Regions from separate parts of the Homo sapiens genome. Here all the other regions are reported to be linked to region 1. Evidence: microRNA targets listed by miRTarBase, many of them from high-throughput screens and not tested one by one. Region 1 holds a microRNA gene; each other region holds the end of a gene's coding sequence.
What was found. Region 1 holds the annotated microRNA hsa-miR-4695-3p (UGAUCUCACCGCUGCCUCCUUC, at 2,100-2,121, opposite strand). A microRNA usually pairs through its seed, bases 2 to 8, with sites in the 3' UTR of a target mRNA and lowers its output. Matches are read on the target gene's strand: a 7mer-m8 pairs with bases 2 to 8, a 7mer-A1 pairs with bases 2 to 7 and ends in A, and an 8mer does both.

Region 1 (4,152 bases):
TAGTGGCCTGCCTCCCCTACCTCAACTCAAACCATGCCCTGCCCTCACTCTCTTGCCCTGTCGCCCCCAAACTCCACACTCCAGCCACACAGGATCCTGCCATGCCCCAGAGCACAAGTTTTTGGCTTGGCAACATTGTATGTGCTATTCCCTCTCCCAACATATATATTCTTCTCCTGCCTCTTCCCCTCTGCCTGGCCAACTCCTCTGCTTAGATGTCACCTCCTCCAGGAAGGCTTCCTGACTCCTCCAGTTCATTCTGTGCTCCCCTGTGCCCTTTCCAGTAGCAGAGGTAGCACTGAAATCAATATTACCCACAGCTGTAGGGTGCACTTCCAGTCTGCGAAGCTCTTTCCTGTTCATTAACATGTTTAATCCTTGCAATGACTCTGCAAATTAAGGATAATCACTCCCTGTACAGGTGAAGAAATGGAAGCTCAGAGAGGTGAAGTGGCTCACTCATAGCCACACAGCAAGTAAGGGAGTAGAGTCCGTGCATGACCCCTGGGTTCACAGCCCCATCCCCAGGCAGACAGCAGGTGAGCAGGTGAACGTCCCCTAGCCACCACAGCCTACACCATCCCCAGGGACTTACGGCACACTGCCTGTGAAGTTGATGCCACAGAGGTGCTCTGAGCTGGTGACAGTGTCCCCAAATAGGGGCCCATCAGCTGGCACAAACTGGATGATGTTGGGGGGCAGGCCAGCCTCCCGAAGGATGCGGTAGACAGCATAGCTGGCCAGCATGGCAGTGTCACTGGGCTTCCATAGGACCACGTTGCCCTGCCCGGGAGGTGTTTCAGTGATGCATGAGGATGGCGCCACCAGCCCCCAACCCCCACCCCACCCTACCCTACAGCATGGTTGTCCCTCACCTGGAACCACCAGACTCTGTGCCAACCAGGACATCCCCTACCCGACCCCACTCCTCCAAGGCGTCTGGCCCTATCTCCAAAAGTCCCTGCCAAGGAGGCCACGGCACAGCCCAATCTGCCCCACGCTCTGGCCAAGGCTCCCTTTCCCCAGAAGCCTGCACCAACCGGTCCTGCCATCACCTAGGCAGGTCTGTTCTTACTGCTAGAGTCACTGAGTGCTCACCGGGCGCGGCGGGGCAAGTACACACGGGCTCTCTCAGCACATGTCCTGGGTCAGGCATGTGCAGCAGCCAGGCACGTGGGCGCCTGGCCATGCACCGTGTTTGTCTGTGCACAGATGCATGAGGACGTCCCCATCCATGTCCCTAGTACACACTCCGGCATCAGCATCCAGTGCCCCTGTCTGGGGCTCGGGGTTCCCGACAACTATGTGGACCTCTCCCACCCAGGCTGTCTGGGAGCTGGGCTGCACCTCCCCCACAGGCCTGGGACTTCATCCAGTAATAGCCAACCTCACTCCGATAATGGCAGAGGAGTGACTTGAATACCATCAACCCCGAGAGAGACTACATCCAAATCTTTCTCTGCTCCATCATTTATTTACTAGTCACTCAGTCTTGCCAAGTAAGTCACGGCTGTGTGTCTCAGTTTTGTCATCTGGCAAAGAGGCAGAGTCACAACTCCCTCTCGAAGCTGCTGAGAGGATGAAATGAGATCATCTCCATGCCGTGCTTGACAGCAGCAGGCACGTGGTGAGCACTGAAGGTCAGCGGTAATGATCATCAACAGAGCCACCAACACTCAGCCAGCTCCGGGCCAGCCCTGCCTGCTGCTGGATGTGTCTCATTTGAGCCTCACAACCCAGTCATGGAGGCTTTCCTATTATTTCCACTTTGCAGATGAGGAAACTGTGCCTCAGAGAAGTTCAGGGATTGCCAGGGTCTCCCAGGCAGAGAGGCACGACGCTGGGATTCAAACTGGGTCTCTGGTCCCAAAGCCTACCCACAGCCCCAAGCTGCCTCCACCTTCTGTGCCTCTCCCCATGACTAGGCTGAGACCCAAGGGGCTCAGGGTGGCCTCTGTCTGTCTGTTGGGACCAGGAGGACAACCAGCTGCCGCTGTCCCACCTGTGCCCACATCTCACCATCAGGGCCGGTGCCCCCGCCAGGTTGCCGCCGATTGCAGTGAAGTTAAAGGGCGAGATGGCCGCCACGAAGCCCTGGGGAAGGAGGCAGCGGTGAGATCAGGCCCATGGCATTGGGCTGCCCCGCCTGCTCGCCCACTGCCTCCTGCAGGTACCTCCAGACCCCGGTACACCGTGCTGTTGGTGCTCGGGGGCACGCTGATGGGCTGCTGCCCCTCCAGCTCCACCGCATACTTGGCATTGAACCGGAAGAAGTCGATGAGTTCCGCTGCAGCGTCAATCTCCGCTTGGATCACGGTCTTACCCTGCAAGGCAGAGGGCCGGGGGTCAGGAGCAGCCAACAGCCTCCTGTCCATCCTCTTCTCACATCTGACGCTGTGCCCAAAGCGAGCACTGAGCCGGGCCCCAGGAGGGACCAGGAAACATTTGGAGGGCTCACCAGGTCCCATCCCAGGGGCTGAGGGGGAAAGGATTCTCAAGCCCCTGAGCTAGCACCTCCTGTAGCCGGCCCTCTGGGCTGGACGGGGATCAGAAGAATTTTAGTGATCCTCTGTAGCAGGCCAGGTACTTGCCATGCACTGTCTTCATTTCATAGCAACTCTGAATGGTGGTGCATGGCAAAGGATCTATGGTCAAGCCTCAGACTAAATTCAGGATCAGAGCCTTCCAGACAGAAGGGCAGATTAGCATGAGCTGGAGATTGGTCACTGGAAAACCAGGAGAGAGACTCGGTGTGTGGGAGGTGGATGGCTCCTTCCCCAGGAATGATGTTCGGCCTTGCTGGTTAGTTTGGGCCAAAAACCAAGAGGCGAGTGACTGTGATTCCCTTAAACCGTCAATTCTTAATAACAGCAAATGTGAGCTGCAGGGAAAAGAACTGTGGACAGCCAAGAACGGGGCTTTTCCAGATTGACGTGGCCTCCTCTTGGCACCCAAGGTCACTGGCAGGTGCACGACCTATTAGAGACACACAGCCCATGAAGCTGAGCTAAGATGTGTACCTTGCTTCCTAGAAGTTCCTGAGTCTTAGGCCAAATACAGAGAAAGCCTAAACTGATCCTAGACTGTCTTCCCAGCAACGTGCGGCTCACCAGGAACACGCAGAGCTGACGCCCACCCCAGAGGGCTGCTGAGCCAATCTAAGAAGGCATTTAGCAGGCTGAGGGGCTGTCATACCAGCTCTGTGCAGCAGAGGGGGCGCTCACCATGGGGACCGAGGAGCAGGCAGTGGCAAATGCCTGATCCAGAAAGCAGCCTGGGTTCTGGCTCCTGCAATTTACCCTTCAGGAACCCAGGTTAGTTGGCAGCGTAGGGCTCAGGTCCTGGAGGTGGTGAAATAACCCTTTCTCCCTCGACTCCTGTCCCCCGCACACTCTGCCTGCTAGAGCCACTCCTCACTCAACTTGCATTTAGCAGGGTGAGGAGCTGTCATGCCAGCTCTGTGCAGAGAAAACCATTGATCAGGGGCTTGCTATGCCTCCTGAAAGGTATCATGCAAAGCCCAGAAAAAGACCGAGAATGTCAAGACATGTTTACTATGTCCAAAAAGCTTGTAAAGGGGCAGTACCTAGGAACTCAATACACTCCAGTGCAATCTGAGCTGTAACTGATGCAGGAACAACATGCTCTGGGGAAACAGAGGCAGGAATAGTCCTTTCGGCTGGAGAAGGCTCAGGAAGTCTCACGGAGGGGGTGACATCTGGGCTGGACCAGGAGGTAAGAGTTCACTGAGCACGGAAGAGACAGCAGGCATTCCAGGCAGGAGGACACGTGGGCAGAGGCAGAGAGGATGCCTGCCATGGCCGGGGAGTCCTGCTAAGTGCCAAATGGCTACACTATGGGCAGGACAGCTTGGCAGGGAAATGCAGAGCAGTGGGCGAGCTGGACAGAGGTGGGCAGAAGGGCCCTGGGTATGGGGCTCAGGTCTTGGGACTTGCCTCTCAGTGGTGGAGAGGTCTGGGTGGGTCATAAGCCAGGAGTAACATCCTGGAGGTGTTGGAAAGACCACTCTGAGGGCGGCGAGGGGCTGACCAAGCTAGGAGGCAGGGAGACAGTGCAGGCCACCACCAGTCCAGGCAAAGCATGACAAAGGCCTAGGAGCGAGGACAGAGGGATGGAGGAGAGGGGACATTT
Region 2 (4,000 bases), not on the chromosome of region 1:
CTGCGTCCCGCGGAGACGGCACGCCTGCGGGCTCTGGACCAGGCTGACTCGGGCTGCCGATCTCTGTGCCTCAAGATCCTCAAGGCCATATGCAAGTCCACCCCGGCTCTGGGCCACCTCACTGCCAGCCAGCTAACCAATGTCATCCTCCACTTGGCCCAGGAGGAGGCTGACTGGTCTCCGGATATGCTGGCCGACCGTTTCCTGCAGGCCTTGAGGGGACTTATCAGCTACTTAGAGGCTGGAGTCCTGCCCAGTGCCCTAAACCCCAAGGTGAACTTATTTGCAGAGCTCACCCCTGAAGAAATAGACGAATTAGGATACACTCTGTATTGCTCATTGTCTGAGCCAGAGGTGCTGCTGCAGACGTAGGGCAGGTGAAGGCCAAAGCGGGTGTTGGTGGTCAGGCCCTGGATTCTCCGTTAGATACACTTGGCTACCTAGTTGGTGCCTCACAGGGTTCCTGCTGCCTGGTGTCTTGCTGATCATCACCCTGGTCACTTCATGCTGATTAGAATGACATCTCTTTCGTCTCCTATTTTGTTACCCAACTCTTCCTATTTTTGTTACCAATCACTGTGCTCTCTGCCGCCCCCTGGCTCCAGGCTAATTTTTCTGGAATGAATTGAGAAGGTGGCGTGCTGGCCTGAGCTGATGGACCACTTGGTGTTTTGCGTTTTGGCCCATGTTTGCTGCCTCTATCTGGTCTGCCTTGCCCGTTTGCCTGTTCCTATTCAGTGTCTTTTCTATTTTTTCCTCTCTCGTTCATGCCTTCTGTTTTGCTCTTGTCCCTGGAGCATATCTGCCTAATTAAGATGTTGCCTTTTAGTTGAATGCCACTGAAGAGCTGTGATAGCATGTTTCAAAGCTGAACTCTACAGAGCGAGTGCTGAGACAGTATTTAGGGTTTCTGGGAGTGAGGCTGGTAGAAGAGTTGGCCTTTGACCACGGTTCCTGGAGTAGAAGTCCATCCTCCCCCCAACCTCCTGACCCATTCATAAATGCTGAGAATGTCTCTCATGGGAACACTGTTAATGACCCACACAGGATAAGCTGAATGCAAAGTTATTTGCAGGTTGAATTTCTTGGTGGCTATTAGCAGAAGTGCAGAGTAGGGAACCAGAGCTGGTTAAGGGCCTAGTGAAGGGTTTGTGTGCCCAGTGTCTGCTCGTCATCTGTGGCTGCAGGGGTCAGACAGACAAGGATGGGGACTGCCAGGGCACCACTTCATCATGAATGCTGGTTTTCACACCTTTTCCTTATTTTATTGCCAATCAGGACAAGGCCTTGAAGGAACGCAGCCTTAGACATCAGGTGAGGATGATGGAGGTAGACAGTCGACTGAATGTCAGCTGGAAAATCCAGTCACTAGTTGGGGTTTGGTGGCCATGTTTTCTACCCAGACAGGCCCTGCTTTTCTAGGATGTGGCCTTAGAGCAAGAACAGACCCAACAGCCAGCCCTTCATCCTCCAGCGTCTGCCATAGGAATGTGAGAGGGGTGTTTGCTGAGCGCTCCGGGCACGGCCAGAGGGCAAGTGAGCATGCACGGACCTCTTCCCCCTGTCCTGTTTCTCACCCAGCACCTGGGGAGATCGGTGCTACCAAGGAAGAGAGCACACAGATAAGACAGAGGGGAGGAGGTGGGCATTTCCTACATTCCTCCTTGTTTGCCGCTGCTGAGATTGCAGTATTTATTGCAATGTAAATGTATCCTGAAGGTGGGGAGGAATGTTTAATCTACCATGTCCGTGTGTCATCTTGGTTTGTGTTTTTCCCTGTTTGTAGCAAGACTCTGATGATAATTCTGTTTCTCATCTGCCCATTCAGTATTTTGTTTTCCTTCCGTCAAGTTGTCTTATTTTTTCAATGACTACCTCTCCATCATTGAGGTTCTGGTGAAGCTCTCTGCAGCTGTCTCATTCCTTCCCAACGATAGTAACAGGAAATGACTCTTTAGCATCGATACCTCAACATCAATTTAGGGTAGAGATTCCTGCCCCTCTTTTGTCACAGATTAGGAAATTGAGAACTAGGGTTAACCTTGACTATATTTAGAGGTCTTTTTGCCTCTTTTCCCCTTAACAAGGATTTCTTATGGTGGTTTCAGTTTCATTTGCATAAAGGTATTGAGAGGGAACAAAAAACATAAAGCTGAGAATCTTGAGAGAGCTCATCTACCCTGTCTGTTGGTCAGACTCAAATGAGAGTTAAAAAAAAAAAAAAAAATCTGTATGCCTGAGTACCATCCTGGATGAATCTAGAAGGTATGGGGTAGAGCTTGACAGGGTTCCTGTGTACCCACTGGGTATCCGTTAGAGGTAAGGGAGAGGAGAGGATTGATAGAGTGTTGCAAAAGTATAGATTATTCATTGAGATAAAGGATTTGGTTTCCCTGCCATGAGTATTAAAAAAATTTAAGTTTTCCCAAGCTTGCATCTCTGACCAAATTTCACATAAAACATTGGAAGGAGGCTGGGTGCGGTGGCTCATGCTTGTAATCCCAGCACTGGGAAGCTAAGGCGGGTGGATCACTTGAGGTCAGGAGTTCGAGACCAGCCTGGCCAACATGGTGAAACCCCGTCTCCACGAAAAAGATAAAAATAAGCTGGGCGTGGTGGCAGGCGCCTATAATCCCAGCTACTCGGGAGGCTGAGGCAGGAGAATAACTTAAACCCGGGAGGCGGAGGTTACAGTGAGCTGAGATCGTGCCACTGCACTCCAGCCTGGGTGACAGAGTGAGACCCTATTTCAAAAAAATAAAAATTGGAAGAAGAGCTTAAAAAAGATAAGATTTTAAAGAGTCCCAAGTTATTTAAGTTGAGTGTAATTGTCATTTAAGGAAGGCAAATGAGTTTATCATCCTTCTTAAAGAGCATCTCTTTTAACTGTTGGACAAAACCATAACTTTGTCATTTTACAAGGAAGAACCTCTTAAGAAGTCCTCAGAACCAGAAGCAATGTGAACTCTCAGCGCTGGTCCTGGTGGGTTTGCTGACCATGACTGGGCAAGCCGTTCTTTTTGCTGCCATCTTCCTCATCATAAAGTGTGGAACATAGGCAATTGCTTTGAGATTCTTGGATAGAAGAGGACAACATTCTGCACCTGCCCCCTTTTTTAAATCTTTGGGGAAAGATGAGTAACTTTCCCCACTACTCTGCCTTCCTGTTCAGTAACTCTTACTTTTGCCTGAAGTAACAGCATCTTCTACTTCTCCATCTAGAGATTTTTGTGTGTGTGCCATCAAGGTTAGCAAACTTTATACGTAGCCTAACACTTAAAAAATGCACTCATTATCTTAAACCTAATAAATTCCAGAGTTTATTTTGGTTCTCCTCTGTTGCCCTTCCTAAAAAATGAGCTGAAGATGACAGTATTTTTCTTTACATGCTTGGTTATGACTTTTAAAGTTTTATTTAAATAAATGTTGAAGCTCAAGTTTAAAGAAGCGTTGCAGAGGCCCACGGTCTCCTGGGTCCCGGCCACCTGTCCATATTCCACATTTGCTGACTGTGCTCCCTGCACTCCACTCAAGTTGAGAGTTCAAATAGTCTTGAAGGGGAATCAGCTTCAGGATGGAAGGACCCAGGAGAGGCCCCGAGGTGGGAGGGTTCTGTAAATACAGACTACTGCGAGTGTCCAGAGCTCTCTGCCATGATACTTCCTTGGGACTGACTTGGCTGAGAACGTGTTCTGTCAGAGGATTTGTTAGAACTCTGCCCTTTTGTCTGAAACTCAAGGCCAAGGAGAATGATAGGAGACTTAGGACAGAGCTGACCCTTGCACCAGGCTGGGAGGCTGCAGCCCTTTTAGATGCCACTTACTGTAAGTGGCCAGAATACCAGAGAGGTGGGTTCCATGGTCAAATGCACAGTAGGTGTTTACCTTTACATTTGGATCACCTTGTAGTCTTTAAATTCTTGGTCCCTGAGGCCAAGTCCACAACTTGCCTTCTAGTCACTTGCCTGCCCGCAGTGGTGGTGGATGTGTTAGCTGGTAGA
Region 3 (4,000 bases), not on the chromosome of region 1:
AAAGATACTCAAGTATTAGAAAGTAGCTTTTGCAAAAGAGTAAGTAGAAAAAAAAGGCTGATGGGTGTTCTGGTATCTTATAGGTCCTGTTTGGAAATGTACTACCAACTTGGTGATTTGGGCTAAGTTACATTACAAAGGGATGATTTTATTAGTAAAATAAGAAAATTTGAGCTTTGGAAAGGATTAAACAAACTATAATATGTAAAGCATGTAGCACAGCCTTTGACACACAGTGCATGTTCAATAAATAAAATAAATGATAGGTGCTGTTATTTTTTTAAGCACCCATTTTTGTAAGCCAGAGAGCACAACTGAAACCAAAATGTACATTTTCCAATGCCCAGCCAAGTGCCTTTCTCTCCTGATTACACAAATCTATACTTACCAAGACTCCTATATCTACAATATCATTATTTACAGAAAGGCTTTGAAAGAGCTTATTAGGAAGACTCAGACCTGTGTGTGTTTGTTTTGTTTTTGTTTCATCTTTAGGAAAAAAGGGGTGCTGGAAACATTCTCCGGAACAGAAACCAACAAGATTTGGCCCTATGTATATGCTTTCCTACAAACTAAAGTTCCACAAAGAAGCCAGAAAGCTTCAGTTACTCCATGAGGAGAAATGTGTGTAACTATTAATAGTAAGATGGGCAAACCTCCTAGTCCTTGCATTTAGAAGCTGCTTTTCCTAAGACTTCTAGTATGTATGAATTCTTTGAAAATTATATTACTTTTATTTCTACTGATTTTATTTTGGATACTAAGGATGTGCCAAATGATTCGGATACTAAGATGCATCGTTTGAAATCATCTAGTGTGTTGTATGCAGTTATCCTCAAAAACATCAGCGATGTCTGAACCTTTAAAACATCTGTTAGAGCAAAATTAAAAGAGCATTTGGTAGTAATCTAACTTTTTGTTCAGTTAATAAGTGGTTGATAAAGTTTCCATATTTTTCTGGAAAAGTTAAAAAAAGTTACATGTCATTTGGAGAAAATACGTAATCAGAAATTTGTGCATAGATTGATGCCAAAAAAGACATTTCCAGCATTGTGGAACATGGTGAGACACTATATAAAATTCCAGAAAGAAAGCAACTGGATTTACAGATTTATTGTGAGACACAAATTCACTGCTGCCTTTACACTAAGAAATGTATATGTTAACCATATATGCTGTATTTATTTTGTCGTTAAGCATACTTTCAGTTTACTCAGAATTTTCAATTTGCTATAAAGATGTATCAATTAGCATATAGAAAAATATTACTTTAAGATGACTTGTTTCCTTTGAAAATACCTGTGTACTGAGGGTTATGATTTGTGTCAAAAATTGACATAAGTGCTTTTACAAGCACCAAAGTTGAATGAATTTTCAACAAAATGTAATTAAAGTCTATGTTTTCAGTTATGACTCAGGTTAAGAAATGTGTTTTAGGATCTACTTGCTGGTTTTTCTTTTTGATCCAAATGTGTGATCTGCCCTGATAAATAACAAGTTATAGTACCATCTCCCCCGCCAATAAAAAAGAGAAGAAAAAAGAGAAACCCGTGGCACTATGTAAATAAAGTAAGCATACTTTGTTGTTAGTAAATAGATGAGGCATGCCTGGGAAATGCTCCCTTGGCATAAATAGCAATCAATCATAATTAGTAAACAGGTGTACCAATAAAAAGAATTTACATGATAGGTTAACAAGGACCAGGAAAGTGAGTTTCCTGAAGGAGTTCTTTGTTCCTGATCAAAGAAATTGATACCTGTTAGCATTCACTGCCACCATATTTTAAGGAGAAAGAACTCTATTGGTGTCGTCTGAGCAGCCATTTAAAAATTGGAATCTAAAGGATGGTTGCTGATGTACTGTGTGGTCTGGTAGAAGTGGGGAAATATGAGAGATGGAGGAAAAACTTGATTATGTCTTCCATGGCATATTTACTCTTACTTTACTTCGTGCCAAATCAAATGAAACAAGCCGTCTTACAAGTCGTTATTGCCTTTAAAAATCTGTTCCGTTTTTTTCCCAGGTACTTAAAATACAAGTGCCAGTAAGTGGTTCTTATGTGTTTTGGGGGGAAAATTTTATTTCCCTTTTCTTCTGATATTTAAAAAATTCATCGATCTTTCAAGATGAACCAAGGTTTTTTAAAAGAAATATAGGAAACACTTCATTCTTTATAAAACTTTCTATAATGCCTTATTTGAATGTTAATCTTATGTGCTTTCTAAAAAATGTTGTGAAATACCAAACTTATGGATTATCACTAGGTTATCAAGCATATATTAGTCTTTATCAGAATAAAATGAAATTTCATAACTGTGGCTATTACTTTGTTCTTGGTCCTTCACAGGGCCTGCTCCATCCCACCTTCCTTTCTGCTGCCTGATGTCTCAATGGCTTCTGAATGACTGTTCTAATAAATGATCTTAAAACAGTCCATAGGCTGGTTTCAGTTTATGCAATACTTCATCTCCTGCTATGGTAGCCATACCGGCCTTCATAATACCCTTAGGGGATTTGGAAATCAAAGTGAGCAGTGGAAGAACATGGCTATGAGAATTAAGACTCTTATTTCCTGTGACCATTCCCTCCCCACCCGCAAACACTTAGCCCAAAGTTTTGCACATACATTCATTACTTTAGGAATGAATATGACTGTAATACAACTTTTTTCTTTATTTTTTTTTAGACAGGGCCTCACTCTGTTGCCCAGACTAGAGTGCAGTGGCATAATTGGGTCACTGTAACGTTGAACTCCTGGGCTCACGCAATTCTTCTACCTCAGCCTCCCAAGTAGCTGAAACTACAGGTATGTACCACCATGCCTGGCTAATTTTATTTTTTTGTAGAGACGGCGTCTCGATATGTTGCCCAGGCTAGTCTCCTGGCCTCAAACAGTCTTCCTGATTCAGCTTCCCAAGTGCTGAGATTACAGGTGTAAGCCACTGCCCCCACCCAAAAAAATAATTCTGTAATGACCATCATTAAGATTTATGTACCACATGGAAATACATGTATGGAGCTGAATGCCATGGCTAGGAGAAACTACTATACTTTTGTTAAAAGCCAATGAGAGGCCGGGCGCGGTGGCTCACGCCTGTAATCCCAGCACTTTGGGAGGCCGAGGCGGGCGGATCACGAGGTCAGGAGATCGAGACCATCCTGGCTAACACGGTGAAACCCCGTCTCTACTAAAAATACAAAAAAAAAAAAAAAAAATTAGCCGGGCATGGTGGCGGGCGCCTGTAGTCCCAGCTACTCGGGAGGTTGAGGCAGGAGAATGGTGTGAATCCGGGAGGCGGAGGTTGCAGTGAGCTGAGATCGTGCCACTGCACTCCAGCCTGGGCGACAGAGGGAGACTCCGTCTCAAAAAAAAAAGCCAGGGAGAACAGCACCTCAACTGATTTATTTTATAGAGTAAAAGTTATTTTGCTATACCTTTTGTAAGCAGCGTGTACTGTGGGAAATGCAAACTAGCAGTTGTTAGCACCATCCAGAAATTTCTGTCAGTTCCATTTCAAATAGTTTAAATACTGGCTCAAATCTCTAAACCCCACCCTATGGCTACTTTTCCCCCAGCTATATATAATGGCATTCTAGCAAGATATTTTGGATCCTCATAACTTGTGACAAAACTGCCCTATACTAACAACAAATCATTGTAATTATAGATCTCAAATTATGTTAAATTGCTATAGTTGCAACCAACAGCAAGAATTTGTATTTTAGAATATGTTGTGTCTTCTCATTGACCAAAAAATAAAAATAAAAATAAAAATAAATCCTCAGGCCCTGATAAACTGTAGAAATAGCTTTTCTATCTTTGCAGTTAAAGATTTTCATCTTGGAAGTTATGGTTAAAAAATTTTTAAACAGTTAAAATAGTGTAGCTGTGCTTAAAGCTTCTGGTAAAAGCCAGTATGCTTTGTAGAGCCCTTATCCCCCTCCTGCTTTTTATTTGTTTTTAGCTCACTAAATAATATAAACACTGATTTTTCCATA
Region 4 (4,000 bases), not on the chromosome of region 1:
CAAATCTAAGCTAACCTTAATGGTGCTGTGTCCGCTGTCCACAGAAAACGCCCTTAAGTAGCCCTACCTTACTCCTTAGAGCTTATTTTGCTTTTGTATTTAATAAAAGCTGTCTTAAATGTTTCCTTGTGTAGTTTATGCATAATGGTTGAGTCTGTGTGTTAATTCAATTTCAAATGCCACTAGTTTGTGAATGACCAGGACTCTGATTCTCTCTCCGCCCTCTTTCCTCATTGTTTTGGGGAATATCACACAGGTTAGGTAGAGAAAATACTTTTCCCTGGAATGCTGGAATCTTTAACTGGACAATTATATTTTAGTAACTGACATCTCATGTTTCTTTGTTATAGAATAGTTGATGTTTTCCCGTATACTTAATATTAAAGTGGTTTAGTCGAGCATTTTAAAAAATTTTTAAATTTTTTTTTGAGACAGGGTCTCACTGTCTTCCAGGCTGGAGTGCATTGGTGTTATCATGGCTCACTGTAGCCTCTACCTCCCTGGGCTCAAGTGATCCTCCAACCTTAGCCTCCCAAGTAGCTGGGACCACAGATGCATACCACCACACCTGGTTAATTTTTGTATTTTTAGTAGAGACAGGGTTTCATCATGTTGCCTAGGCTGGTCTCGAACTCCTGAGATCAAGCGATTTGCCTGCCTTAGCCTCCCATAAGTGCTGGGATTACAGGCATGAGCCACTGCGCCTGGCCTACTGAAGCTTTTTAAATGTAGAGGCTTAAATAGCACTTGCCGTGGGAATTGAGAGATGCAAGTACTTTCAAAATTCAGTTGATTATTAAAGTATTTGATTAATCCATGCCAATATTTTCTCTCAATTTTCTAAGTATTCATGAATAAGTTATGTATTTATGTTGAGAGAATGATAATATATATGCTTCTCAACTTGCAATGGAATTATCTCCGGACATCATAAGTTGAAAATGTAAGTTGCAAATGCATTTAATGCACCTAACCTACCAAGCATCATAGCTTAGCCAACCTTAAACGTACTCATAACATTTACATCAGCCTACAGTTGGGCAAAATAATCTAACACAAAGCCTATTTTATAATAAGGTGTTGAATATCTCAAACATTGTACTGTACTGAAAGTGAAAACAGAATGGTTGTGTGAATACTTGAACTATAGTTTCTACTGAATACATATTTCTTTCATAGCATTGTAAAGTTGAGAAATCCCAAGTTGAACCATTGTAGATTGGGGACTGTAAAAGATTGGCTAATGTAAATATCAATGACTGTCTAAAGTTTAATAGAAATTGTGATTTTTAAATTGTGTATGGTTATAATACAAAAATCATGAAGAAGGCCAATCTGTTATTACAGTGTGTACTTAAAAAACATGCCTTCCTTGGGCCGGGCACGGGTGCCCACGCCTGTAATCCCAGCACTTTGGGAGGCCTAGGCGGGCAGATCACGACGTCAGGAGATTGAGACCATTCTGACTAACACGGTGAAACCCTGCCTCTACTAAAAATACAAAAAATTAGCCAGGCATGGTGGTACGCGCCTGTAGTCCCAGTACTCAGGAGACAGAGGAAGGAGAATCGCTTGAACCCAGGAGGCGGAGGTTACAGTGAGCCGAGATCATGCCACTGCACTCCAGCCTGGGCGACAGAGCGAGACTCCATCTCAAAAAAAAAACAACAAAAAAAAACTTTTCTTGCTATAACTTTTGGTATTAATTATATGAGAAAATGAAATCCCTAGGTTAACCATTTAGATACTGCTGGGATATGTGATCCTCCTACCTTCCTTAGTATCCTCATAAAATGTTAAGTTCTAGAAGCAGCGTTATGTATAAAAGTACAGTCAGCCGTCTGTATCTATGGGTTCTAAATCCGCTGACTCAACCTCAGATTAAAACTATTTGAAAAATAAATACTACAAATAAAACCAATACAGTATAATAACTACACATCATTTACATTGTATTCGGTATTATAAGTAACTAGAGATGATTTAAAGTATACAAATACTATGCCATTTTATATCAGAGACTTGAGCATCCATTTATTTTGCTGTTGGGGGTGGGGTGGGGGGTCCTGTAACCAATCCTCTGAGGATAACAAGGGATGACTCTATTAATATATTGATTTTATATTACAATACATACTAGTGCTCTGAAATTCCCAAACAGGCTGGTCATTGTTTTGCATTATTTTGTAATGAAATTCAAGCAGTTAATCAGCAGCAAGAAGAGTAGTGTGAGACAAAATAAGATGTTTAGTCATTGTATGATTTTTTTTTTTTTTGAGACAGAGTCTCTCTGTCGTCCAGGCTGGAGTGCAGTGGTGTGATCTCGGCTCACTGCAACCTCTGTCCCCTGGGTTCGGCTGACTGCAACCTCTGCCCCGCCGGGTTCAAGTGATTCTCCTACTTCAGCCTCCCAAGTAGCTGGGATTACAGGCGTGCACCACCACGCCTGGCTAATTTTTGTATTTTTAGTAGAGATGGGGTTTCGTCATGTTGGCCAGGCTGGTCTCAAACCCCTGACCTAAAGTGATTTGCTCACCTTGGTCTCCCAATGTGCTGGGATTACAGGCGTGAGCCATGACGCCCAGCCAGTCATTGAATAATTATTTAAAAATGAAATTTTGATGTAGTGAAACTTTGTCTTTTGTGGAAGTGCCTATGAGTCTGCAACCTGGTGGTCATTGCCAAATTGCCATTGGTTCACACTTGTAATTACCAGTAGCCAAGAGAGCCATGTGACTACTGTAAGCCCTACTGAAACCACTGACTGTTAAAACAAGTGTGTTTGTTTGACACATTGTGTGTGATCCTTGTCTACAGCCCAAATGACTGTTTTGGGTAACTCAAAGTTGAATTTAAAGATGAAAAAAGATAGGTTTCATAGTATAGGGGGAAGTGAAAGAGTGAGAGAGTTGGAAATTGTTAATCTGTAGCTAAATTCTTTATGAAATAAATGTGAAAGGATTAAGCTCATTCCGTGTAGTTCCTAGGGCGGACAAAAGGTGGAGCAGCTGTCTGAACCAGTGAATTCCTTGTCTCTGAAAATGTTCCAGCCCATAGTGAATAAACACCCTTGGGGCTGATCCAGTACTGGGAGGGGGCGAGTGGAAGACTCACAGGATCCTTTTCAATTCCGGAGGTCTATGAAGTAAAAAGCGGAAGAAGTTTTGGGAGGAATAGAGAGGGAGGGGGACATCATTTAAAAGTAAGTTTGGGCACTCATACCAATTCTCATACTTACTACTTTGTCATATGCTACCCAGTGGTTACAAACAGTAAAATGAAGTAAAAGTGCAGTACTAAGTATTAAAAATAGGCATTCAAATATTTTTCCAAATGCATGTTTTCAGCATTACCTCCAGGTAGAATATACCAGAACAACCAATTCATTTCTAAAAGGAAAATTGCATACCAATTTTCCTATCCCAATTTTCCTATTCCTATAAGAAATGAAAGAGACACAACGAGTTTTGTCAATAAAACTTTAGGAATATCTGCACATGTACATTTACATTCAAGTTGATAACACTGGTGGTTTCATTTCAATACAAATTATGCTAGAGAACTGACATTTCAGACATGGTCATATATATGCTATTTGAATTCCTTTATCTTGATACAGATCTTGATTGTGAATCTCTTGATGATAGATGTGCAGCTAATTTGTCCCGAAACTCATGAAGATAATTGTATTGCTGAAAAAAGTAAAGATACATTGGAATACACTGTAGAAAACTAGTTATCAGTGTGGGCACAATATTAGCAGGTATCAGGAATAAAAAAAAATACTTGCTAAGCACAATTCTACATCTTTTTGGGTAAGGAAGCATTTGCATCATGGGGAAGTTTTATCTTTTAGTAAAGCCATATAGTGTGAAAAACTATTGTTCTACAAGTCTCTAAAAATCAGAAGGTGAAATGAAATGTAGATGGATATGTTTTAAGTCTAAAATTCTTTCTCTCTTTACTTACAGGACCAAATAAGATTAAAACAGTACATAAT

Region 2: miRTarBase lists MIEF1 as a target of hsa-miR-4695-3p. Seed matches in the 3' UTR shown: 7mer-m8 at 2,700-2,706.
Region 3: the mRNA of AK3 is a reported target of hsa-miR-4695-3p. Seed matches in the 3' UTR shown: 7mer-m8 at 3,315-3,321.
Region 4: the mRNA of CDKN3 is a reported target of hsa-miR-4695-3p. The part of its 3' UTR that is shown has no 7-base or 8-base seed match.

What each region holds. Positions count from the first base shown.
Region 1 is chr1:18,881,105-18,885,256 of GRCh38, forward strand. MIR4695 (microRNA 4695) reads right to left here and starts at 2,171; the gene lies at 2,098-2,171. It overlaps ALDH4A1 (aldehyde dehydrogenase 4 family member A1), which reads right to left. Exons shown (of 15, transcript NM_003748.4): 6 at 2,175-2,324; 7 at 2,020-2,094; 8 at 596-783. RefSeq lists a silencer at 3,025-3,256.
Region 2 is chr22:39,513,952-39,517,951 of GRCh38, forward strand. It overlaps MIEF1 (mitochondrial elongation factor 1), which reads left to right. Exons shown (of 6, transcript NM_019008.6): 6 at 1-4,000. The coding sequence ends at 372. Among named protein-coding and RNA genes, the nearest start is that of ATF4, 4.6 kb to the right of the region's middle.
Region 3 is chr9:4,709,592-4,713,591 of GRCh38, reverse strand. It overlaps AK3 (adenylate kinase 3), which reads left to right. Exons shown (of 5, transcript NM_016282.4): 5 at 496-4,000. The coding sequence ends at 616. Among named protein-coding and RNA genes, the nearest start is that of AK3, 30 kb to the left of the region's middle.
Region 4 is chr14:54,419,684-54,423,683 of GRCh38, reverse strand. It overlaps CDKN3 (cyclin dependent kinase inhibitor 3), which reads right to left. Exons shown (of 8, transcript NM_005192.4): 8 at 3,466-3,692. The coding sequence ends at 3,606. It overlaps CNIH1 (cornichon family member 1), which reads left to right. Exons shown (of 5, transcript NM_005776.3): 5 at 1-123. Among named protein-coding and RNA genes, the nearest start is that of CNIH1, 20 kb to the left of the region's middle.